Homo sapiens: one gene and its partners. The protein of the gene in region 4 purifies or fractionates together with the protein of the main gene of each other region. This does not show direct contact. Each region holds a gene or a part of one and is shown on either strand. Other genes may lie near its edges.

Region 1 (7,035 bases), on a different chromosome or scaffold from region 4:
ATGGCTTAATAGCATCCCATGGTGTATATATACCACATTTTCTGTATCCACTCATTGGTTGATGGGCACTTTGGTTGGTTCCATATCTTTGCAATTGCAAATTGTGCTATAAACACGCATGTGCATATGTCTTTTTCATATAATGACTTCTTTTTATTTGGGTAGATACGCAGTAGTGGGATTGCTGGATCGAATGGTAGTTCTACTTTTAGTTCTTGAAGGAATCTCTATACTGTTTTCCATAGCAGCTGTACTAATTTACATTCCCACCAGCAGTGTAAAAGTGTTCCCACAACCATGCCAAAATCTATTGTTTTCTGATTTTTTTAACAATGACAATTTTTGCAGGAGTAAGGTAATATCTCATTGTGGTTTTAATTTGCATTTCCTTGATGATTAGTGATATTAGTGCCCTTTAAAAAGCAACTCCAGTAGGGTTCTCCAGAAGAGTCCCATTCTCCATGTGAGGCCCCATCAAGAAGACAGCCATCTATGAAGCCTCACCAGACACCAAATTTGTTGGTGACTTGATCTTGCATTCCCAGTCTCCAGAGCTCTAAGAGATAATATCTATTGTTTATAACCCACCCAGTTTATGGCATTTTGTTACAGCAGCCTGAATGGGCTAAGACAGTATGTGTGTAAATTACCTTTTTAGCACTGTGTTTGCTGCAATCTATAAGTTTTAATATGCTGTGTTTTTTATTTCATTTGTCTCAAGATAATTTCTAAATTTCCTCGTGACTTCTTCTTTGATTCATTGGTTAGTTAAGAGTATGTTGTTTAATTTTGCAAAGATTGGGAAAATTTGTGATTTTTTAAAAGTTTTCCTTCTGTTAATTCCTTTCATGTGACTTGATAAGATGCTTTGTATAATTTCTGTCTTTTAAAGTTAATTAATACTTCTCTTCTGGCCTAATATATGGTCCATCCTTGAGAATGTTCCATGTGCACTTGAGAAAAATGTGTGTTCTTCTGCCGTTGGATGGAGTTTCCTGTATATGTCTGCTAGATCCAGTTAATTTGTGGTGGTGTTCGAGTCCTCCATTTTCTTATTGATCTTCTCTCTGGTTTTTCTACTCGTTATTGAAAGTGGTATATTAAATTCTCCAACTATTGCTGTAGAACTGTACAGTTCTTCCTTAAATTCTGACAATGTTTGCTTCATGTATTTTGGGGCTCTGAGGTTTATTGCTTATATGTTTATGATTATTATATCTTCTTGGTGAATTGACCCTTCTATTAATAGACAATATCATTTTTTATCTTTTGCAATTATTTTTAACTTAAACTTTATTTTGACCGGGCATCGTGGCTCACGCCTGTAATCCCAGCAGTTTGGGAGGCCGAGGCAGGTGGATCACTTGAGGTCAGGAGTTTGAGACCAGCCTGATAAACATGGAGAAACCCCATCTCTACTAAAAATAAAAAAGATTAGCCGGGCACGGTGGTATGCGCCTGTAATCCCAGCTACTGGAGGCGGAGGTTGTGGTGAGCTGAGATCGTGCCATTGCACTCCAGCCTGGGCAACAAGAGCGAAACTCTGACTCAAAAAAAAAAAAAAACAAGTTTTTTCTGTCGGATATTAGTATAACAACCCACAACCCAAGCTCTCTTTTGGTTACAATTCACAGGGAATATATTTTTATCCATCCTTTAACTTTCAACATATTTGTGTCTTTTTTTTTTTTTTTTTGAGTTGGAGTCTCCCTCTGTTTCCAGGCTGCAGTGCAGTGGTGCGATTTCAGCTCACTGCAATATCTGACTTCCTGGTTCAAGTGATTCTCTTGCCTCAGCCTCCCCAGTAGCTGGGATTACAGGCACACACCACCACACCCAGCTAATTTTTGTATTTTTAGCAGAGACGGGGTTTCACCATGTTGGCCAGGATGGTCTCCATCTCCTGACCTCATGATCCACCCGCCTCAGCCTCCAAAAATGCTGGGATTACAGTTGTGAGCCACCACGCCCAGTGGAATTCGTGTCTTTAAATCTAAAATGAATCTCTTGTAGATAGTGTATATTTGGATCGTGTTTTATTATCCACTTAGCCAATTCCTTCCTTTGGATTGGAAAGCTTACTCCACCTACATTTAAAGTAATTACTGATAAGGAAGGACTTCTACCATTTTGCTATTTGTCTTCTGTGTGGCTTAATATTTTCTGGCCCTCATTTCCTTTATAACTGCCTTCTTTTACGTTTAGTTTCCTTTTTGTAGTGACACATTTTTTCCCTTCTGATTTTCTTTTGTTTATATTCTACAGATATTTTCTTTATGATTACTATATTACATACAACATCCTAAGGTTGTAACAATCTAATTTGAATTAATACCTACTTAACTTCAATTGTATAAAAAAAAACTGTACTCCTGTATGGTTCCATCTTCCATTTATGTTGTTGATGTCATCTTGTACCTCTCAACTCAGTCCATAAAGGCACTCACATTGATCTAATATCATGAGTGGAAAACAGTATTACTTGCCATAAACAGAAGGCATTTATAACCATAACTATAGGCTTAAAAAAAACAATTTTCTCATAGTCTCCCTAAATCCTATTCTCATTGGAAGCTCTGATCCTGAAGCATGTCTTCCTCTTGAGACTTCCAGAGAGTTCAAAGCATATCAGCACTAAACTAAGAATCAACTTGATATACTCAGAACAATCAGAAGTGAATCCAAAAAGGGATGTAATTTGATGTTTTTAAAATGTTTTTTTCGGGTAGCTCTTAAAACCATTTCATGTTCCACAAGAGCTATTGCTTAGGGGTCAAGTGAATCGGTCATGAAGCAAGAATTAAATTCAAATATCAACCCTCTCAGTGAGCAGCTGAGTGACTCTGAGCAAGCAAATGTGCCTCCCTCAAGCTTAGGTTTTTTTCTTATTTAAAATGGGCGACAAAAAAAGTGCCAACTTCACACAAAAACATGTATGCAAATGTACATAGCAGCTTTACTCTAAATAGTCAAAACCTGAAGACAACAATCCAGATGGCTTTCAACAGGTAAATGGTTAAACAAAAACTCAGCTACATCCATAACATGGAATACTGTTCAGCAACAAAAAGGATCAAACCGTTTGTGCATGCAACTTGGATGAATCTCTGGGGGATTATGCTGAGAAAAAAAAAAACAGTCCCAAACAGTTATATGCTGTATGATTCTATTTATATAACATTCTTGAAACAGCAAAATTATAAAAATAGAGAACAAATTAGTTGTTAGCAAGGGGTCAGGGAAGGTGAGAGGAGAGGAAGAGGAAATGAGAGGGAGGTGGGTGTGGTTATAAAAGAGCACCATCAGAGATCTTCCTGATGAGGTGGGGAATGCACAAACCTACATATGTGATAAAACTGCATACAACTAAATACACAGACACACAAGTGAAATGGGACATCTGAAGACTGGTGGATTGTATCAAGGTCAGTATTCTGCCTAAGATACTGATCATATGGTTTTGCAAGATGGTACCACTGTGGAAAACTAGTGAAGAGTACAGGGCATCGATCCACATTATTTTTTATAACTACATGCCATCCACATTTGTCTTAAAATGAAAAGTTAACTTAAAAACATACTAGACTCATAGGCTTTCTGTGAGGATGAAATGAGATAGTATTTAGGGAAGAAAATTCCCTCAGCAAATGTTTATTGACCCCTCTCATCTGTCCAGGCTCTATGTGAATGCTGAGCTTATAGCAGTAAGCAAGGTTCACACCATAATGGAAATTTCATTCTAGTGTAGTGTCACACAAAATGAATATATATATATATATATATATATATATATATATATATATATATATATATATATGTATACATACAGAGAGAGAGAGAGAGAGAGAGAGAGAGAGAGAGATGAAGTCTCACTCTGTTGCCCAAGCTGGATTGCAGTGGCGCGATCTTGGCTCACTGCAACCTCCACCTCCCAGGTTCAAGCGATTCTCCTGCCTCAGCCTCCCCAGTAGCTGGGATTACAGGCATGCACCACCATGCCCAGCTAATTTTTGTATTTTTAGTAGAGATGGGGTTTCACTATGTTGGGCAGGCTGGCCTTGAACTCCTGACCTCATGATCCACCCACCTCAGCCTCCCAAAGTGTTGGGATTACAGGCGTGAGCCACCGCACGTGGCAGAATTGATATTTTTAAACATTGTCATTGAAATTGGTTTAATCACAACCACTCATAGAGCAGTCGCATGCATCATGCGCTACATGTAATGAAAATAGACTCAGAAATGGCAAAACTTGCCCAGGTACCGAGTAGAAACAGAGGCAGAATTCAAACCCAGATTGGAACCCAAGGTTGTGGCTCATCACCTCTAAATTCACTGCCTTCAACAAAGGAGCTCTCTTCTTTTTGCAGGGTGACCCAGAGAAGACAGCTAAAGTGGAATGTGGGGACTTCTACAACACTGGGGACAGAGGTAAGATGGATGAAGAGGGCTACATTTGTTTCCTGGGGAGGAGTGATGACATCATTAATGCCTCTGGGTAGGTGTGGCTGATGCTGGGCTGGCTGTTGTTGCCGTCACATGCCTCACGGAATTTTGCTTACCTAGACATTTTTTCACGCATTGGTGAAATTTCAGCCTAAATCTGAATAGAGCCGTGTCTATGGTGCCCTGATTCCAGGCTTCAGTATACCTCCCGAACCTTCTCTGCACGCAGAAGAATCAAGCAAAATGAAATTCAAGAGGGTCTGGAAGAGGAGCCATAATAAGACACTGTGCAATTTACAGTGGGGTGGGGGGAGTGGAATTGAGAAGGGAGACTCTGTCTTGGTCTCCATAGGTTCAGGGAGCCTATTTCATGTTTGTGCCCCTCTAATGCAGCACCAAATGTCACAGGACAAACATAGTAATAATAATAGCTAACCTTTAGCTATTGTTTATTTTTATTATTATGAATATATTTGTTATACATCTATGAGCATAATAAATCTATTATTATAAAATTATTTATTAGTATAAATATATTATTTACTGTAACTATTTAGCTAACCTGGAGTACTTACTATGTGAAAACACTGTCCTTAATGCTTTATATAACCCACCTCTCAAAGCTGGATGGGAGATGTGATTATTATCCCTATTTTACTAACGAGGAAAGTGGGTCACTGACCGGCAAGGAAATTTGCCTAAAGATTCAAAGATAGCACAGGATGCAATCCAGATTTGAACTGAGGTAGTCTGGCTCTGAGTCCCTGTCCCTACCCCTACATGATTTTTAAAAAGGCGCATTACACTACAGTAACAATTTCCCTTGGATATTTTAGAGAAATTGATGGCATTTTTATTTTTTTATTTTATTTTTTATTTTATTTTATTTTATTTTATTTTTCTGAGACAGAGTCTCCCACTGTCACCCAGGCTGGAGTGCAGTGGCCTGATCTTGGTTCACTGCAAGCTCTGCTTCCTGGCTTCAAGTGAGCATGTCCAGCTAATTTTTATACTTTTAGTAGAGATGGGGTTTCACCATCTTGGCCAGCCTGGTCTTGAACTCCTGACCTCCATTGATCCCCCTGTTTCAGCCTCCCACAGTGCTAAAATTACAGGTGTGAGCCACCATGCCCAGCCTGGATGGGATTTTATTTTAAATTTCTAAAACATGATGTACTGGAAATTTGCACAAAGAGTAGATTTTATGTTCTTACCACAAAAGAAAAAAAAGGCAATTATGTGAGACGATGGATATGCTAGTGTGCTTGAGTGTTTTAATCGCGTTACTATGTATATGTACATCAAAACATCATGTTGTAAGCCTTAAGTATATATAATAAAAGCCGAAAATCCTGCTGATACAATGGGAAATAGTATGCAGAATTTGCATGAATGTTTAAGACCAAGTTTGAGGCTTCCAAGAGATTTCGTGTTGGGGGAAGCTGCTTGGGCCAAGCTCTGAGGAGACAAAACATTAGCCGTCCTCCATCAGTACAGGCAGTGAGGCAAGAAGCCGGGAGCACCGCAGTCTTGTATTTCTCAGCCTATAATGTCCAGGTCTTTACACTTTGGGCCCATGACACAGACAAGTCAGGGGTCCCTGGCTTCCTATGACCTCCACCCTCTGTGCCAAAGGAAGCTGTGACTCCAAAGCAGGAGATCTGGGGACTTGGTTCACCCCAGCCCTGGCATCTGCCTCAGAACCCTTCATCCTCCAGGTATCGCATCGGGCCTGCAGAGGTTGAAAGCGCTTTGGTGGAGCACCCAGCGGTGGCGGAGTCAGCCGTGGTGGGCAGCCCAGACCCGATTCGAGGGGAGGTGAGGAGAACACAGAGATCATCATGTCTGTGCGTGGGCACTAGGAAAGCAGGTGCAGGGGAAACATCCAGGCTTTACCTGTGCAGCCTTGGTGGAAGGGCATAGTGTGCATGTGCGTTTACACGGTATGGCACCAGGGGACAGTGTGGACTCTCTGTGGCTCTGAATAAAAGGATGCTAGATACTATGTAATGAGCACTTATATATGCCAAATCACTTAACTCTCACACAATGTAGTAATCTAAGAACACTTATGCTTTTTATAGATGAGGAAAGAGAAGCAGGAGGAGGTTAAGTAACCTCTCCACATCACCCAGCTAGAGTAAGGGGTGGAGGCAGAATGGCATCTCAGCAATGTGGCTCCCGAACATACATGCATTTGTATATTGAAAAGTGTTATTAGGCCGGGCACGGTGGCTCATGCCTGTAATTCCAATGTTTTGGGAGGCTGAGGTGGACCGATCACCTGAGGTCAGGAGTTCAAGACCAGGCTGGCCAACATGGTGAAACCCCACCTCTACTAAAAATACAAAAAAAATTAGCCAGGTGTGGTGGGGGCAGGTGGGTGGAATGGGGGGTGGGCGCCTGTAGTCCCAGCTACTTGAGAGGCTGAGGCAGGAGAATCGCTTGAACCTGGGAGGCTGAGGTTGCAGTGAGCCAAGATCACACCACTGCACGCCAGTCTGGGCGACAAGAATGAAACTCCATCTGAAAAAAAAAAGTCTTTATTAATCACCTTCTATATGTGAGACCTTGTGCAATAAAACTTGG
Region 2 (3,097 bases), on a different chromosome or scaffold from region 4:
GGGAGGCAGAGGTTGCAGTGAGCTGAGATTGCACCATTGCACTGCAGCTTGGGCAACAAGAGCAACTGTATTTTTTTTTACACATGTGCCATTTTTGCAAAATATATTTTCCAAAACAAATGAGCAGGAATGGCATTGGTTTTTCCATTTTTGCAAATCTCTTCAGTCTGGCTGACGGAAGACGGCTGGACCCACATGCCTCGTGCCTTCTGGAGATCCTCCCAGGCTCCTGCGGACTGAGTGACGAGGCAGATAGTGTCTATATTACTGTTGAACCACACAGACCTGAAAGGGCCTCGGGGACCCCCAGCCATGCTGACCACACCCCAAGAGCTGGGGCCCAGATGGAAAGACAGGGAGATTGTCCTGGCTGGCTTTGATGGGTGGAGCTCAAACCAGATAGAGGACAAGGGGGCCTGGCCACCCGCACAGACACTCCCAGACACAGAGAACAGGCAGGGGGCTTCCAGACCCCTTCCCAAGCAGTTCTCTGGGTTTGTCGGACACAGGAAGAGGAAGCTGCTCACCTTTGTCCCTAAGCCCAGGGCCTGTGCCCTGTGTGGCTGGTCTGGAACAGCCTTGCTGCCCTTGCCTGGGGTTGGAACCAGGGCCTCTGGGGTCCTGCGGACCTTTGTTCTCGCACCAGCCTTGGGCCTGCGCTGGGCAGTGGCCCCCCCCTCGGTTGCCGCGCCTCCCTCCTAACATTGCCAGAGTGAAACACTCCTAGTCTCTCGGCTTTGCTTGTATTTCTTTACTGCCATGTCTTTCTTGTTGTTCCGTATTTGAAGACCCATGTGATAAATTTCTTCAAAGCTAGGAAGGAGTTTTGTCTCTCTGCGTGAGATATTGGCTGCTTGCTGGAACCTGGGGCCCAGGTTTGGCCTCAGCCTCATTTCCAGATGCCTTGGTGCCCACATCTCTCTTCTCCTACTTGGCTCTCCCCTTTTTATTTCTTTATAAAAATGAAGGTGGTGAACTAAGCAGCCTCAGGCTTTAGAAGTGAGTCCCTGGCATCGGTGAGGCCACCCACACAGCCATTCCCTGTACATCAGGAGGGTGGTCTCACTCTGTACCTATCACCCAGGTTCTCGGGACCGGAAGTCAGGTGGGAGACTGGGCTCCCCGAAGCCAGAGCGGCAGAGAGGCCAGAACTCCAAAGCCCCTGCAGCCCCGGCTGACAGGTGAGTCCCACCCAGCATGTGCCCTGGGCACACCGAGGGGGCCAGCCCCAGTCGCTTCCCCAGGGAGGCCAGCAGCAGCAGGGCTAGCACTGGGCCAGGCTGGAGGCGTCACTACAGCTCCTGCTGGTCTGACGGGGTGAGGGGCATGGACAGCGAATTGCAGCCCCACCCCCCACCCCCCCCCACACACACACACACGCTCCTGCCCTGGTTGAGGCTGGAGGGTGCCCTCTGCTCCGCATGCCCTTGGGCAAAAGATCCCTGGGCACAGAGGTGGGAAGAATAACAGGAGGTTGTGCGGGGCCAGCCCAGGACCCTCCCAGTCTGCTCCACAAAGCCCGGGAGCCAGTGGCTAGGACCAGGCCTGCTTGTGGCAGTGGGAGCCTGGCCATCCAGGGAGCCCCTTGCCTGTCCTGGTGGCCGCTGAGGACACAGTGGAAGCGCCCCTACGGGGAGGTCACCCCTTCCACCTGCAGACGTGGCTTCTGGGGGCTCAAGGTCTTCCCCACCCCCTTGTAGGAAGCGCCAGCTGTCACCCCAGTCCAAGAGCTCCAGCAAGGTCACGAGCGTGCCCGGCAAAGCCTCGGATCCCGGCGCCGCCAGCACCAAATCAGGGAAGGCCAGCACGCTGTCTCGGCGGGAGGAGCTGCTGAAACAGCTGAAGGCCGTGGAGGATGCTATTGCACGCAAGCGGGCCAAGATCCCCGGGAAAGCATAGGCCGTGCCCCGACCGGACTGGACGCATTTTTATACATAGGGTAAGCGCAGCCATTTTGGATTTTGCAGTTAATGTCTTATTTTGGCTGTGATTCTTTTTAAAAAGTAAAAAAGAAAAAAAAGTTTCTCAGCTGGAAAAGAAGCCACACAGGAAATGACAACGACGCTGAATCCCAGCCTCCCTCCCCAGAGCAGAAGTCCCGCAGGACAGACAGACACAGACAGCGCTAGTGACCAGCACGGTTCTCATGTAAATTACAAGCCCCAGCCGCCAGCCCCGCCTTCTCTTCCTCCTCCTCCGTCTTCTTCCCTGGCCCTGGTCAGGCCTGTGGAGCCCCAGCTCTGGGTCCCTAGCCCGGGTCCAGGCAGCCAGGCTCCCTCCTGAGCTGAGAAACGGAACCTCGCGAACCACTGGTGGCACATCCTTCTCCTCCCCCGCCCCTGATCACCCGCCCCCGGATCAGAAATATATCTATATTCTCGACTAAAGTCTCATCAGGAAATATTTCCTGTCTTTTATTTTAAGCATCAAATTGTTTTAGTTGATTTAAAAAGGAAAAAATACAGAAAAGACCAAAAAAAGGCCAAGGGTGTTGTTGGGGCGTCTGTCTAATGTGGTGGGTCTTTTTTTGAGGGGTCTCCTAAAATAAAATATTTTGATAAGCAGCTGTCCTTGCCCTCGTGGTGTGTGCGCCCTCTGCCCATGCGCAGCCGGGGCTGCCTCTGTGTCGTGCACTGCACTCGGCCCAGCACTCGGGAGCCGCTGGGGGGCGAGGGTGTGGCTGTGCACTCACTCCCCCCGGGAGGACCGGCTGTGGAGCAGCTCCTGCCTTCAGACCCAGCCCAGGAGAGCATTGCGCCTCAGTTTCCCCATTCGTGGGGCTGGGTTGGGGCTTCCTTGGTCCGTGAGGTGGAGGTACTTTCCCTGCAGGGGCCGTGGAGCTGCTGGAGGGGAAGAGGTCCAGGGCTGACTCCCAGCCCCAAGCCCAGCTGCCACCACTGCAGTGACCACCACCGGCTCCGTGTGCAGGCCCCAGACCTGCTGAGCCAGGCCCCGCGTGTGATGCCACGTTCCACAGCAGGGGCCACCGGCAGAGCCCCCCAGGACCCACCGCTGCTGCTCCCTGCTTTCCACCTTGAAAGCCACAGGCCTGCGCCTGGGCAGCGGCCTCCCAGGTGCACGCTCCAGGGCCTCCAGC
Region 3 (7,944 bases), on a different chromosome or scaffold from region 4:
AGAAAAATGAGCAAGAGGCACAAATAAGCACTTCATATGAAAGGAAACACAAGGCCAGGCGTGGTGGCTCATGCCTGTAATCCTAGCATTTTGGGAGGCTGAGATGGGCGGATCACAATGTCAGGAGTTTGAGACCAGCCTGACCAACATGGTGAAACCTTGTGTCTACTAAAATATAAAAATTAGCTGGGCGTGGTGGCATGCACCTGTAATCCCAGCTACTTGGGAGGCTGAGGCAGGAGAATTGCTTGAACCTGGGAGGCAGAGATTGCAATGAGCCAAGATCACACCATTGCACTCCAGCCTGGGCAATAAGAGAGAAACTCCGTCTCAAAAAAAAAAAAAAAAAAAAAAAAGGAAACACAGATGATTAAAAAACATAGACGAGAAATTAGATCCCAGCTTGACAATGCTTCCCAATGTTGATCAATTGCCTGCCCTATGCCCAAGCACTTCTGTCCATGTGTACCTGGAGTCATGCACAATGCTCAGCAAACACCTGGAAACACCCAAATGTGCATCAGCAAGACACTGGATCAACACACTGTGATATAGTCACACACTGAAATAGTCCACATGGCCAGAATGGAGTATAGAGGCATGCAACAATATGGGTAAATCTTTTCTTAATATTAAGAAAAAAGAAGTCCCAACAAATTTTGTAAAGCAAGAAACCCCCCTCCTTTTTTTTTTTTTTTTTTGAGACAGTCTTGCTCTGTTGCCCAGGCTGGAGTGCAGTGGTGTGATCTTGGCTCACTGCAACCTCCACCTCCTGGGTTCAAGTGATTCTCCTGCCTCAGCCTCCCAAGAAGCTGGGATTATAGGCATGCACCACCACGCCTGGCTAATTTTTGTATTTTTAACAGAGGCTGGGTTTCACCATGTTGGCCAGGCTGGTCTTGAACTCCTGGCCTCAAGCAATCCACCCGCCTCAGCCTCCCAAAGTGTTGGGATTACAGGCGTGAGCCACCACGTCCAGCAGGATGCCTTTTTTTTTTTTATAAAGTTAAGAACAACTAAAATGAAAAGATATAGTTTGAAGGAATATATAGTTTGAAGGAATATGTTTGAAGGAAAGCAAGAGAATGCTGAACACAGGATTTGAGATGATGATTTTCTGATTTTCTGTGTGGTGGGACAGCAGGAGGATGGGAGCAGAAGAACTGTATAATGAGATGTGAATTATTTTAAAGGTCCTAGTTGTATTGTTTTGTTTTTTGGCGAAAGCCAATTAAATAACTGATGAGAATGTATCATTATCAAAATATTATAAAGAATTTAATCCTGTGTGCTTAAGGTCTAATTATATAGGAAAGGGGGCAATCTCAGATAGTTTCTATTTGGCTTTGCAATGGAGTCAGAAGAGTCAGATTTCCCCCTAAGACAGCTCCTTCATGGAGCTCATTGCTTCTTGTCCCCGCACTCATCATTTCTCTCCCTCTTAAGTACAGTTGCTCCTCGACTTACGATGAGGTTACATCCCAATAAACCCACTGAAAATATTATAAGTCAAAAAGACATTTAATACACCTAGCCTACCAAACATCAGAGCTTAGCCTAACCCACCTTAAACAGGCCCAGAACACTTCCATAGCCTAGAGTTGGACAAAAATCATCTAACACAAAGCCTATTTTATAATAAAATGCTGAATATCTCATGTAATTTATTGAATACTGAAAGTGAAAAACAGAATGATTATATGTGTGCTCAAAGTATGGTTTCTACTGGATGTACATAGCTTTTGCATCATCATAAAGTCAAAAAATCATTAAGTTGAAATATCATGAGCTGGGGACTTATCTGTACCCGAAGCCCACCAAAGCCCATCACTGGCCATGACCTGTGACCTTCAAAACCTTCCCATCTTGATTTCCCCAAGGGATTCCACGGTCCTCACCTCACTAGATCACCATGACTCACTGGGTAGATGGGCTATTGTTTTCATTACCCTTTCATAGGTGAGGAGCCTGGGGCCCAGAGAAAAGGGGGTGAGCTGCGGAAGGTGAGCCTGGCTTCAAAACCCCAGCGTAGGGTTTCTCTCCACTCTGGTGCCCAGTGCTCCCAGCCCCCTATCAAATAAGTCTTCTTGGGGCTAAAAATTGCTGTACATAATTACCAAGCACCATTAAAATTCCAGATCTCTTCTGTTCATGGAAGATAACTTTGTCTTATACTGGATCATAAGGAGCTGGGGGTGGGAGGGTTCCTGAAGCACTGGAAGCAATCAAGCCACTCTCAGATTGGGTGAGCTTCCCTTTGGACAGAGACCCAGTCTAGATCCTTAAACACCCCCCTCCCCACCAAGGGGATTCCTGAGCCAAAGGCCCCAGCCAGCTCACCTCAAGGCCAAGCCACAGGACTCTGGGAGCCCATGACCTGAACCTCCACTCCTCTCTATCCACTTGCCCATCTGTGATATGGGATAAGGGTTTCTGTCCCAGAACTGACAGGGAGGTGGAAAAGTACAAATTTCAGATAGTAAGAGTCATCATTATGGGGGGAGAGAGTGACTCCTGGGATGAGAGTCCTGTCCCCCACCCCTCCACAACCCACCCCTCCACAACTCACCCCTCCACAACTCACCCCTCCCCAACTCACCCCTCCACAACTCACCCCACAGCACACACCAAAACTTGCCCCAAAGAGCAGAAAGAAAATACTAAAGGAGGTGAGAGTCTGACATCAAATGCCAGAGCCAGAGAGGGCACTCTTGGGGAACCTGAACCACTCCTCACTTTTCAGACACCCCACTCCTCACTTTTCAGACACCAGCAAGTGCAGGGATTTACCCAAGGTCACAGAGTAAGGCCGAACAGAGAGGCACAGGCCAGCAGGGCTCTCTTTTATCAATTTCCTAGAGAAAAGGGAGAGATTTACTCCTTGGCCCCCTTGAGGCAGAGCTGAGATGAGGTTGAGGTGAGGGACTCCCTGGATGCTGGTCTCAACACAGAGAGGAAGCACTTTCTTGCTACAGAGATATTCCACAACTCAAGAGGCTGCCCAGAGAGTGGAGAGTGACCTCCTCATCCTGTGGGGTATATGAGTAGCAAGCAGGTTCTGGAGTCCCGGCTGAGTCCTCTCTCTCTCATTCGGTAGTCAGGCAATCCCTGGGTGTCTACCATCCTTTCCTATCCTCCTGCCTGCCCCTCTCCTCTGAACCCCGTCTCCTAGCCTAGTCTGGCCCAGCTACATCTCCTTGGCTGGACCTGGTGGCAGTGGGGTTGGCTGGGTAATGCACAGACTGCTGACCTAACTATGTGTCCCCGAGGCCTTGCTACTGGGGGTTGGAGGGGCCAGGGCAGTTTGACCAGGCCTGAAGAAGGCTGGGCAGCGCTGGAGGGGCATGGGTCAGACCAGGTTATCCTCTGTTCCTGAGGAGAGTGAGCTCAGGCCCAAGGAGGAGAAGGAGGAGACTGGGGGCTCAAAGGAACGAGAACCTCCTTCTTCATCAGGATTTGGGGGTGCATCTCAGAGCTGGCTGGAGGAGCATGGTGTTTGAAGCCCCTGAAATCTGAATTTTAGCAGGAGCTGCTATTTCCTGACTTGCATAGTGGTCAAAGTTACTTCTCCTTCACGGTCCACAGAGAAGGGGTAATAATATTTGTCCCCAAGGGTGGTTTGTGGATTTTAAAAAATAAGTTAAATAATATTGCCCATACATTATAGGTACTCCATACATTTTCATTCGTTCGTTCATTCGTTAGTTGGGCCGGGAGGATGAATGGGATCTAGAGGCAGGTGGGAATGCGGAAGGGGATGATGCCCCAATACCGAGAACAATGTGAGACTCAGACGGAGGCAGGGGCGGGAGGGGAGCTCAAGCGAGGGATCAGCGTGAAGCCAGAGAAACAACCGACACTTTTCCTGCCAAGAAGGTGAAGCAGCTGCGGGTAAGAGTATAGGTTTGGCAGTGGGAAGTCGAGGGCGTTCCCGTCGAAGCTCCTTTTGTGTATAAGGCCTAAGAAGGGGCAGTGCGCTTTGCGAAGGTCTGAAAAAGACTAAGGGGATTAGGTAACGACTGAAAGGAAGTTTTCACAACTCTCCGTTTTTGGGGGATGGGTGCTGCTTTATCCGTCCAGGACTCCGTGCGTTGGGAAAATCACGCCGCGAGGGGGCGCAAGAGCCGCGTACTCCAGAGCAAGAAGAAAAGGCTCGGGGATCCAGGCGGAGAGTCCAGGAGAAGAGCCGCCAGACTGCAGGGGCAGGTGGAAGGCGTGGCAGCTGGAAAAGTAGGGGTGGGGGCGCGGTCGTGAAGGGTGGGACTTCTGGAGCAACGCTGGGCGGGTTGGGGGCCGGTCGGAGCCGGACAGGCGGCTGGGAGGTGGGATGGGCGGGGCGCTTGGGAGCGAGATGGGGGGACAAGGGCGTGGCTACAGCTAAATTCGCCGCAGAGGGCGGGCGGGGAGGGGGAGGGAAGGGGAGGAGGCGTGGCCTGGGCGGGGAGTAGGGCGCGACGGACCCTTCAGTTAGCCCGCGGCTCCCCGGGCTCTCCCTGGCGCCGAGTCCCACCCCTTTCCCGGCCCAGAGAGTGTGCGTCTGCGTGCACCTGAGTGTCAGTGTGTACGAGAGTTTGTGAGTCCGAGGTTGCCATGTTGGAGCCCCTGGGCAGGAGGTGTTTCCGCGCGGAGGCTGGTGGCCCGCGGTGGACGCGGCGCCCTGGCTGCGAGTCTGCGGAGCTGAGCACGCTCAGCGGTTGTGTGTGTCTCAGCGACTCCCTGGGGGCAGCTCGGCCTGCTGGGCTCCCGAGGGACCTCTCTGGAGGGCCAGAGGGTCGCCTCAGTCTGCAAGTCCTCCAGCAGGCTTTTTCTTCTTCGGCTCCTCCCTGATTCCCTCCCACCACGCGGTTCCCAGGCTCGCGCACGCCCGGAGCCCACCCCCTCTTTTGGGCGCGAGGCCCCGCCCCCCGCCCCCTTGCCTCTGCCGCAAAGTTTATTTGCAACAAAAGGGTGCCAGGAGCGAGCAGCCAAGGGCGTTGGGCAGGCGGACGCAGAGTCGAGGAACCAAGCGCTGGGATCCCGCCCAGGCGGTGCCGCGGTGCCCCTGGTCGCTCCAGCCGCGGCGGGGGCTGGGCCTGGGGGTCGGCGCTGAGGCGGGAGGGGCCGCCCGGGATGGAGACGTTGCGGCCGGTGGCCACAGAAACTTGAGCCGCGGCAGAGAAACCTCTGCTCCGGTCTCTGCGTCCTCTTCCCACACTCCCGTGCGCTGCTTTCGGCGTGGGCCGCTGCGCTCCTAGGGAGTGGGGGCGCAGGGGGGGTTGGCCGCGGCTGCCCGAGGCCAGCCCCCCCGGAGTGAGTTACGCCACTATGGCGGACGGGGCACCCCGGCCCCAGCTTTACCGCAGCGTCTCGTTCAAGCTGCTGGAGCGCTGGAGCGGCGGCCCCGGGCTGAGGGAGGAGGACACGGACACCCCCGGCTTGAGGCGACGCGCCTCGTGCCGGCCGACCACGGCTGCCCGGGGCCAGCCCTCTCGGCGCGTGTCCAAGCTGGCGTCTGGGCCCCTGGCCGCCCCCGCGCAGCCGCGCCCGCTCCGCAGCCTCTCGCCGTCGGTTCGCCAGCTCTCCCGGCGCTTCGACGCGCCGCGTCTGGACGACGGCTCCGCTGGGACCCGAGACGGAGGCGTCTTACCCGCGGCCGCGGAAGAAGCGGCCGAGGGCCCAGCGCGAGGAGCCTGGCCCAGCGTCACCGAGATGCGCAAGCTCTTCGGCGGTCCTGGCTCCAGGAGGCCCAGCGCCGACTCTGAATCCCCAGGAACGCCCAGCCCCGACGGTGCCGCGTGGGAGCCTCCGGCTCGGGAGTCGCGGCAGCCACCGACGCCACCCCCTCGGACATGCTTCCCCCTGGCGGGTCTGCGTTCGGCGCGGCCCCTGACCGGGCCGGAGACCGAAGGGAGGCTGCGCCGGCCGCAGCAGCAACAGGAGCGGGCGCAGCGTCCAGCGGATGGTTTACATTCTTGGCATATCTTCTCCCAACCGCAGGCCGGGGCCCGGGCCTCCTGCTCCTCCTCCTCCATCGCCGCCTCCTATCCTGTCAGCCGCAGTCGTGCTGCCAGCTCCAGCGAGGAGGAAGAGGAGGGCCCGCCGCAGCTGCCTGGAGCCCAGAGTCCGGCCTACCACGGCGGCCACTCCTCGGGCAGTGACGACGACCGAGACGGTGAGGGCGGCCACCGCTGGGGAGGGAGGCCCGGGCTCAGGCCTGGAAGCTCCCTATTGGATCAGGACTGCAGGCCTGACAGTGATGGGTTAAATCTAAGCAGCATGAACTCAGCAGGGGTTTCTGGGAGCCCTGAGCCCCCAACATCTCCAAGAGCCCCTAGAGAAGAAGGACTCCGGGAGTGGGGTAGTGGCTCTCCGCCCTGCGTCCCAGGTCCCCAGGAGGGACTTCGGCCTATGTCTGACTCTGTGGGAGGAGCTTTCCGTGTGGCCAAGGTGAGCTTTCCCTCGTACCTGGCCAGCCCCGCAGGCTCCCGCGGTAGCAGCCGTTATTCCAGCACGGAGACCCTCAAGGACGACGACCTATGGTCTAGTAGGGGTTCTGGGGGCTGGGGCGTGTACCGCTCCCCTAGCTTTGGAGCTGGGGAAGGGCTCCTGCGGTCCCAGGCTCGAACCCGTGCCAAAGGACCTGGAGGCACCTCTAGGGCATTGAGGGATGGAGGATTTGAGCCTGAAAAGAGTCGACAGCGGAAGTCCCTGTCAAATCCAGATATCGCCTCAGAGACCCTGACGCTTCTCAGTTTCCTGCGCTCAGACCTTTCAGAGCTGAGGGTCCGAAAACCTGGTGGGAGCTCCGGGGACCGTGGAAGCAACCCCCTAGATGGCAGAGACTCACCATCCGCAGGTGGCCCTGTGGGGCAACTTGAACCCATACCCATCCCAGCCCCAGCATCACCTGGCACGCGCCCCACACTCAAGGACTTGACAGCCACTCTGCGGAGAGCAAAGTCATTCACCTGCTCTGAGAAGCCCATGGCCCGCCGCCTGCCCCGCACCAGTGCTCTGAAGTCCAGCTCCTCCGAGCTCCTGCTCACAGGCCCTGGTGCCGAGGAGGATCCGCTGCCCCTCATCGTCCAGGACCAATATGTGCAGGAGGCCCGCCAGGTTTTTGAGAAGATCCAGCGCATGGGTGCCCAACAAGATGATGGAAGCGATGCCCCCCCTGGAAGCCCTGACTGGGCAGGGGATGTGACCCGAGGGCAGCGGTCCCAGGAGGAGCTCTCAGGCCCTGAGTCCAGTCTGACAGATGAAGGCATTGGGGCAGACCCTGAGCCTCCTGTTGCAGCATTTTGCGGCCTGGGTACCACAGGGATGTGGCGACCTCTTTCCTCATCCTCGGCCCAGACGAACCACCATGGCCCTGGGACTGAGGACAGTCTGGGCGGGTGGGCCCTGGTGTCGCCTGAGACCCCTCCCACACCAGGTGCCCTCCGCCGACGACGCAAAGTCCCACCTTCAGGTTCTGGTGGGAGCGAATTGAGCAATGGGGAGGCAGGGGAGGCCTACAGGTCCCTGAGTGACCCAATTCCTCAGCGCCACCGGGCTGCCACCTCTGAAGAGCCTACTGGGTTCTCTGTGGACAGCAACCTCCTGGGCTCACTGAGCCCCAAGACAGGGCTCCCTGCCACCTCAGCCATGGATGAGGGCTTGACCAGTGGTCACAGTGACTGGTCTGTGGGCAGTGAAGAGAGCAAGGGATATCAGGAGGTTATTCAGAGCATAGTTCAGGGGCCTGGCACCCTGGGGCGTGTGGTGGACGACAGGATTGCTGGCAAAGCCCCCAAGAAGAAATCCCTGAGTGACCCCAGCCGCCGTGGGGAGCTGGCTGGGCCTGGATTCGAGGGCCCTGGAGGGGAGCCCATCCGAGAAGTTGAGCCCATGCTGCCTCCATCCAGCAGCGAGCCCATCCTTGTAGAGCAGCGGGCAGAGCCAGAAGAACCTGGTGCCACCAGG
Region 4 (7,035 bases):
AAAATGATCCTCTTACAGGAAGTGTCTCTAACTAGAATAATAATAATGGGTGTTTGGTAATTCCAAACACCCATTTCCAACAGGCCAAATAAAATACGTTATATATTAGTAAAATTTTTATTTCTTTTTTTTTTTGGAGACAGTCTTGCTCTGTTGCCCAGGCTGGAGTGCAATGGCATGATCTCAGCTCACTGCAACCTCCGCCTCCTGGGTTCACCGGGTTCAAGTGATTCTCCTGCCTCAGCCTCCTGAGTATCTGGGATTACAGGCACCCACTACCACGCCCAGCTAATTTTTGTATTTCTAGTAGAGATGGGGTTTCACCATGTTGGCCAGGCTGGTCTCGAGCTCCTGATCTCAGGTGATCCGCCCGCCTTGGCCTCCCAAAGTGCTGGGATTGCACACGAGCCACCGCGCCCGGCCATAGTAAAAATCTGTAAGTTTTTCAATTAAGTCACAAATCAAAAACATTTCAGATTATGGGCCGGGCACAGTGGCTCACGCCTGTAATCCCAGCACTTTGGGAGGCCGAGGCGGTCGGATCACGAGGTCAGGAGTTTGAGACCAGCCTGACCAACATGGTGAAACCCCGTCTCTACTAAAAATACAAAAATTAGCCGGGCGTGGTGCCGTGTGCCTGTAGTCCCAGCTACTCAGGAGGCTGAGGCAGGAGAATCGCTTGATCCCAGAAGGCAGAGGTTGCAGTGAGCTGAGATCACACCATTGCACTCCGGCCTGGGTGCCAGACTGAGACTCTGTCTCAAAAAAAGAAAAAAAAAAGAAACCAAAAATGTTTTAGATTATGTGCCAAGATGTTTTTAATAACAGCTTTGAGGTATAATCCACATACCATACAATGTACTTAAATTGTATATTATAATTCAGTGATTTTTAGAATATTCAGAGTTGTGCAATCATCACTGCAATCAATTTTAGAACATTTTTATCACCCCTTTAAAATCCCATTAGCAGTCAATCCCCTTTCACCCCATGGTCCAAATTCTCCCCAGCCGCAACTACAAATCTACTTTTCGGCTAGGCAAGGTGGCGCACACCTATAATTCCAGCACTTTGGGAGCCCAAGGTGGGAGGACTACTTGAGCCCAGGAGTTCAAGAACAGCTTGGGCAACATAGAGAGACTCTACCTCTTAAAAAAAAAAAAAAAATTATTTATTTATTTATTTATTTATTTTATTTTTTATTTTATTTTATTTTATTTTTTGAGATGGAGTCTCACTCTGTCACCCAGGCTGGAGTGCAGTGACGTGATCTCAGGTCACTGCAACCTCCACCTCCCGGATTCAAGCAATTCTCCTGCCTCAGCCTCCCGAGTAGCTGAGATTACAGGTGCCCACCACCACACCCAGCTAATTTTTGTATTTTTAGTAGAGACGGGGTTTCACCATATTGGCCAGGCTGGTCTCAAACTCCTGACCTCGTGATCCGCCGGTCTTGGCACCCAAAGTGCTGGGATTACAGGAGTGATCCACCGCACCCGGCCTAAAAAAAAATTTTATTGTTTAAGTTAGCTGGGTGTGGTGGCTCACATCTGTAGTCCCAGCTACTCCGGAGGCTCAGGTGGGAGGATCACCTGAGCCTAGGAAGTTGGGGCTGCAGTGAGCCATGATCATGTTACTGCACTCCAGCCTAGGTGAAAGAGGGAGACCCTGTCTCAAAAAACCATACAAACCCCAAATCTACTTTTTACCTATTCTGGATATTTCATAAAAACGGAACCGTAGCTCTGGTCTTTTGTGACTTGCTTCTTTGACTTAACATAATGTTTTCAAGGTTTATTGCCAAATAATATTCCATTGTATGCCTATATACTACATTTTATTTACCCATTCATAAGTTGATGGCCATTTGTATTTTTTTTTTCACTTTTTGGCTATTATAAGTAATGCTGCTATAAACAGTTGTGTAGTTTTTGTATAAATGTGTTTTCATTTCTTTTGGGCAAATACCCAGTAATAAAATTGCTGAGTTGTATGAACTCTGTTAAACTGAGGGGCCGGGTGCAGTGGCTCATGTCTGTTATCCCAACACTTTGGGAGGCCGAGGTGGGAGGATTGCTTGGGCCCAGGAGTTCAAGACCAGCCTGAGCAACATGGCAAACCTTAAAAAAAAAAAAAAAAAAAAAAATTAGCCAAGCACGATGGCACGTCTATGGTCCCAGCTACTTGGGAGACTAAGGTAGGAGAATTGCTTGAGCCCAGGGCGTTGAGGCTGCGTTGAGCTATGATCACACCACTGCACTCCAGCCCAGGTGACAGTGAGGCCCTGTCTCAAAAAACAAAAAATCAATTGAGGAACTACCAGACTATTTTCCAAAGAGGCTGTACCGTCTTGCATGCCCACAAGCAGTGTCTGAGGGTTCTAGTTCCTCTAGATTCTCACCAATACTTTTTGCTATATATTTTTTTTTATTATACCATCCTGTTGGCTATGAAGTGGTTTTGATTTGCATTTCCCTAATGACTAATATTGAGCATCTTTTCATGTGCTTATTGGCCATTTTTATATCTTCTTTGGAGAAATGTCTATTCAGATTCTTTGCCCATTGTGCTAGATTTTTTTACTCAGAAAAACGATCACTTTACCTTCTAGATGTGTTACAGAGATAGGCAGCCCTGCTTGTAAACCTTCGTCAGGATCCAGAGTGCATAATACCTCTATTAGGTTAGGTAGGTTAGGAGCATAGGACCCTTTGGGAGGAATTCAGGGCCATTCATTTTATATCTATTGAACAACTACTGTGAGTTAGGGTGTGGTAAAATGAAGATGAATAAGATGTGGTGGTCCTTGCCCTTGAGTTTATGGTCTACTAGGGGGCTTGGGGGGAATGGTGAGTGACAAGTCCACAGCTCTCCAGAGGAGGTGGTGGCATATAGACGGAACTGAATGTACAAAGCGCGGTGGCATCAGAAAATGAGAGTTGCATGTGGTTTATTGAGGGGCATTGTTCAGGAAATGCCCGGGAAGTTCAGCTGGCCAGAGACCTGGGGAGTGTCAAGTGGGAGAGATTAGCAGACAGACTCGGAGAGAGGTTTTAGAAGGCCTTTCTACAGAAGGTGGTTGAACTATTTCCTGAGGGCAGTGGAGCCTTTGAAGGGGAGTAGTTAAGCGGGGATCTGATGGGATTTATTATGAACAACTAGCTGTTATGTGGAGATTGGCTGGGCAGGGGTAGGTCTGTCAGACTGAGGAGACTGGGATACTTAAGTAATGACCTTCAGAGCAGTGCCCCTGGCTGGCCTGTCTGGAAGCCAGGGTTTTGCATCCAGATCGAATATTGGCCACAGATTGGATCTTAAAAGTTATTTTTAATAAAATGGTAATATTAGGATTTTAACTTGTGCATTCTTTTGTCTTCAAAATGAAGTGCAAAAGGAGTGTTTGCCTGGGGAAGCTCTTTAGTTGGACTTTAGTTGAGATTATGTTAAATAAATGCCTTACTTACTGTTAACATTTCTCTTTTTTTCCTTTAAGTTCTGTTGGACTTGAACTGTTAACATTTCTAAAGTGAAGGGAGTACCGTAAATTCTTTTAAACGTTTGTCAGTATTTGGGTATTGGTATGGCCATCTGGTATAGGCAACAGGTATTTGTGTAGAAATGTTTCTTCAACAAGGACGGGCAACCTCTAAACTAGGATTTCGTGGCTGGAGATATTTTGGATGTGAATGTATTAACAGCTTTGGAGAGACACATTGTTAGAGATCCAGGCTGGTGACTTGTAGAACCACCGAAAGCTCTGAGACAGAAAGGGGCTAATGAAAGTCTCTAGTTGCAGTTGGGTGTGGATGGCACACAAAGACCTTAAGTGTTTAGGTGATTTGCTGCAGGCTTCTCGGCCGACTGGAAGCAGAGCACATCTAGATTGTAGTTTCTCTGGTGCCAGGGCAGTCTTAGTTGTCCTGTTATACCTAAGAAAAGGGAGAAAAATTTCTATTCTTTAAATGTTCTGTAAAGCAGACTAATTGTGATAATTTTTAAAGTAAGCTGTTCTTAAAAGATAAGATACAGAAGCCAGTTAAATTTGTATTTTAGATAAATAATTTTTTGTTAAAATAAGCTTTTGGTAATTGAAGAATAACATACATTCAGAAACGTACAGAAATCAAGTGTAAACTCAGTGAATTGTTCACAGTTGATGCACCTGTGTAAGCAGCAACCCAGAAGCCCTCTACCAGTCACTGCCTCCCCTGAGCCAAAAGAACTACTATCCTGACTTCTGAAAGCATTGATTAGTTTGGCCTGGTTTTGTTTTTGCTTTTTTTGTTTTCGTTTTTGAGATAGGGTGTTGCTTTGGAGTGCAGTGATCATAGCTCACTGCAGCCTCATCCTCTCAGGCTCAAGCAATCCTCCCACCTCAGCCTCCTGAGTAGCTGGGACTATAGGCATACGTCACCGTGCCCGGCTAATTTTTTTTTTTTTTTTTTTTTTAAGACGCAGAGTCTCACTATGTTGCCCAGAATGATCTGAAACTCCTGGGCTCAAACAGTTTTCCTGCCTCGGCCTTGCAAGGTGCTAGGAATACAGGCGTGAACTACCGTGCCTGGCCAGTTTTGCCTGTTTTTGAACTCTCTGTCAACGGAATCACATAGTGATACACATTTGCATATCTAGTGGCATTTGCTCAGCCTAAAGTGTTTTTTTTTTCCTTCCTCTTCCCCTTACAACTATTTTTTAGTTGTTTATTTTACTTCATTAAAAAAATGAAAAGATTTGAGGTATAATTCATACACAGTAAAACAGACTCGCTTTACAGGTAGTTTCAATTGTATACTGTTGTATAATCGCCATCAAGATCTAGAACTATTTCATCACCCCAAAAAAGTAAAATAAATAAATAAATAAAATAGAAATATAATAATTTGAGCTTTATCCATATCATGTGTAGTGTGTTCATTTTCTTTTTTGACAGTTTCGCTCTGTCGCCCAAGCTGGAGTACAGTGGTACAATCTTGGCTCACTGCAACCTTGGCTCACTGCAAACCCTGCCTCCCGGGTTCAAGCGATTCTCCTGCCTCAGCCGCCCCAGTAGCTGGGATTACAGGCGCACCACCACACCCAGCTAATTTTTTGTGTTTTTAGTAGAGACAGGGTTTCCCCATGTTGGCCAGGCTGGTCTCCTGACCTCAAGTGATCTGCTCCCCTCGGCCTCCCAGAGTCCTGGAATTACAGGTGTGAGCCACTGCACCCAGCCAGTTTGTTCATTTTCATTGCTGCATTAGTGCATTGTAGGAATGTACTATTCATTCTGTTGATAGACATCTAGGCTGTTTCTGTTTCCCTGCTATTATGAGTAGTGCTTCTCTAACCATTCTCATATATGTCTTTGGTGAACGTATGTGTTCATTTCTGCTAGGTATGTATGTAGAGGTAGAACTGCTGGGTTCAGCTTTAGTAGATAGACTGCCAACAGTTTTTAAAATAGTTGTACCAATTTACACCATGCCAGCAGCATATGAAAGTTCTCACTTTTCTATATACTCACCAACACTTAATGCTGTCTTTTTAACTTTAGCCATTCTTTGAGCTGCTAGTTGTAATTTAAGAAGAATAGGCCAGGCATGGTAGCTCACGCCTGTAATCCCAGCAATTTGGGAGGCCGAGGCAGGTGGATCACTTGAGGTCAGGAGTTCGAGACCAGCGTGGCCAACGTAGTGAAACCCCATCTCAATGGCTTTTTAACTTTAGCCATTCTTTGAGCTGCCGGTTGCAATTTAAGAATACTAGGCCCGGGCGCAGTGGCTCATGCCTGTAATCCCAGCACTTTGGGAGGCCGAGGTGGGTGGATTTTTGTGTTTTTGTAAAAATACAAAAATTAGCTGGGTGTGGTGGCACACACCTGTAATCTGAGCTACTTGGGAGGCTGAAGCAGGAGAATCACTTGAACCTGGGAGGCGGAGGTTGCAGTGAGCTGAGATCTCACCACTGCACTCCAGCCAGGGCAACGGAGCGAGACTCTGTCTCAAAAAAAAAAAAGAAAATAAAAATAAATAAATTAATTAAATAAAATGGCAAGGCACAGTGGCTCACATATGTAATCCTAGCACTTTGGGAGGCCGAGGAGGGCGGATCACTTGAGGCCGGGAATTCAAGACCCACCTGGCTAACATGGCGAAACCCCAACTCTACTAAAAATACAAAAATTAGCTGGGTGTGGTAGCACCTGCCTATAGTCCCACCTACTCGGGAGGCTGAGTCAGGAGAATCATTTGAACGCAAAAGGTAGAGGTTGCAGTGAGCCAAAATTGCACCACTGCACTCCAGCCTGGGCGACAGAGCAAGATGCTGTCTCAAAAAAAAAGAAAAAACAAAAAAAAAACACCAAAAAAATAGTAATAAATTGCCAAACATTTTGCAGGAGTTTCTCACCAGCAAGTTCTTGTGTTAGTTTATTTTACCAACATCTTTTGTCCGGTTTTTCTTTAGTAAAAGTATTTATAATTCTGTATTATACTTCCATAGGTAGATCATTGTTGAAAGTCCAGAAGGTTGAGCTTCCATGATGTAATATGATATGAAATCTTGTATTGCTAGTGGCATTTGGTAGGAAAAGGGATGGGGAGTGGTTAAAGGTGAATTAAGCTGAATGCTTGTTTTCAATTTGTTTTTTTCTCGAGGCCACTGAGAAGCTAGTCTTTTTAGTTCTCGAAAATAGTGCTTTTAGTCCAGAGGCTGTGACTGATGTAACTAACAGGCCTTAGTTTTTGGTTTTCAGTGAGGTGCTGGCGGAGGAGTCCATAGTATGTCTGCAGAAAGCCCTAAATCACCTTCGGGAAATATGGGAGCTAATTGGGATTCCAGAGGACCAGCGGTTACAAAGAACTGAGGTGGTAAAGAAGCATATCAAGGTGGGTTGAATAGTACTGGTCTCTGCATTGGACCAGGGTAAGGATGTTGGTGTCTCACCCGAGATAGCATACAGAAGGGACATGTGATCATCGGCATTAGGATAGCACAGGCTCTTCCTGTTTGGTTTGGTTTGGTTTTGAAGTCCCTTCTTGAAATTTGAGGAGGCTG

Evidence for each region.
Region 1: the proteins of PRC1 (region 4) and ACSM1 purify together in Homo sapiens (affinity purification with mass spectrometry; 2 studies listed by BioGRID and IntAct, with this or other methods). This does not show direct contact.
Region 2: the proteins of PRC1 (region 4) and ZC3H18 purify together in Homo sapiens (affinity purification with mass spectrometry; 2 studies listed by BioGRID). This does not show direct contact.
Region 3: the proteins of PRC1 (region 4) and ARHGEF17 purify together in Homo sapiens (affinity purification with mass spectrometry; 2 studies listed by BioGRID and IntAct, with this or other methods). This does not show direct contact.

What each region holds. Positions count from the first base shown.
Region 1 is NC_000016.10:20,624,652-20,631,686, reverse strand, and holds part of ACSM1 (acyl-coenzyme A synthetase ACSM1, mitochondrial), read left to right. Parts: intron 1-4,370; coding exon 4,371-4,498; intron 4,499-4,596; coding exon of another isoform or gene 4,597-4,611; exon of another isoform or gene 4,612-4,964; intron 4,965-6,164; coding exon 6,165-6,264; intron 6,265-7,035. UniProt on the Homo sapiens protein: Catalyzes the activation of fatty acids by CoA to produce an acyl-CoA, the first step in fatty acid metabolism.
Region 2 is NC_000016.10:88,629,401-88,632,497, forward strand, and holds the end of ZC3H18 (zinc finger CCCH domain-containing protein 18), read left to right. Parts: intron 1-1,084; coding exon 1,085-1,181; intron 1,182-1,700; coding exon 1,701-1,899; 3' UTR 1,900-2,564; downstream 2,565-3,097.
Region 3 is NC_000011.10:73,303,335-73,311,278, forward strand, and holds the start of ARHGEF17 (rho guanine nucleotide exchange factor 17), read left to right. Parts: upstream 1-4,941; 5' UTR 4,942-5,304; coding exon 5,305-7,944. UniProt on the Homo sapiens protein: Acts as a guanine nucleotide exchange factor (GEF) for RhoA GTPases.
Region 4 is NC_000015.10:90,984,524-90,991,558, reverse strand, and holds part of PRC1 (protein regulator of cytokinesis 1), read left to right. Parts: intron 1-2,934; exon of another isoform or gene 2,935-3,929; intron 3,930-6,733; coding exon 6,734-6,866; intron 6,867-7,035. UniProt on the Homo sapiens protein: Key regulator of cytokinesis that cross-links antiparrallel microtubules at an average distance of 35 nM. Essential for controlling the spatiotemporal formation of the midzone and successful cytokinesis.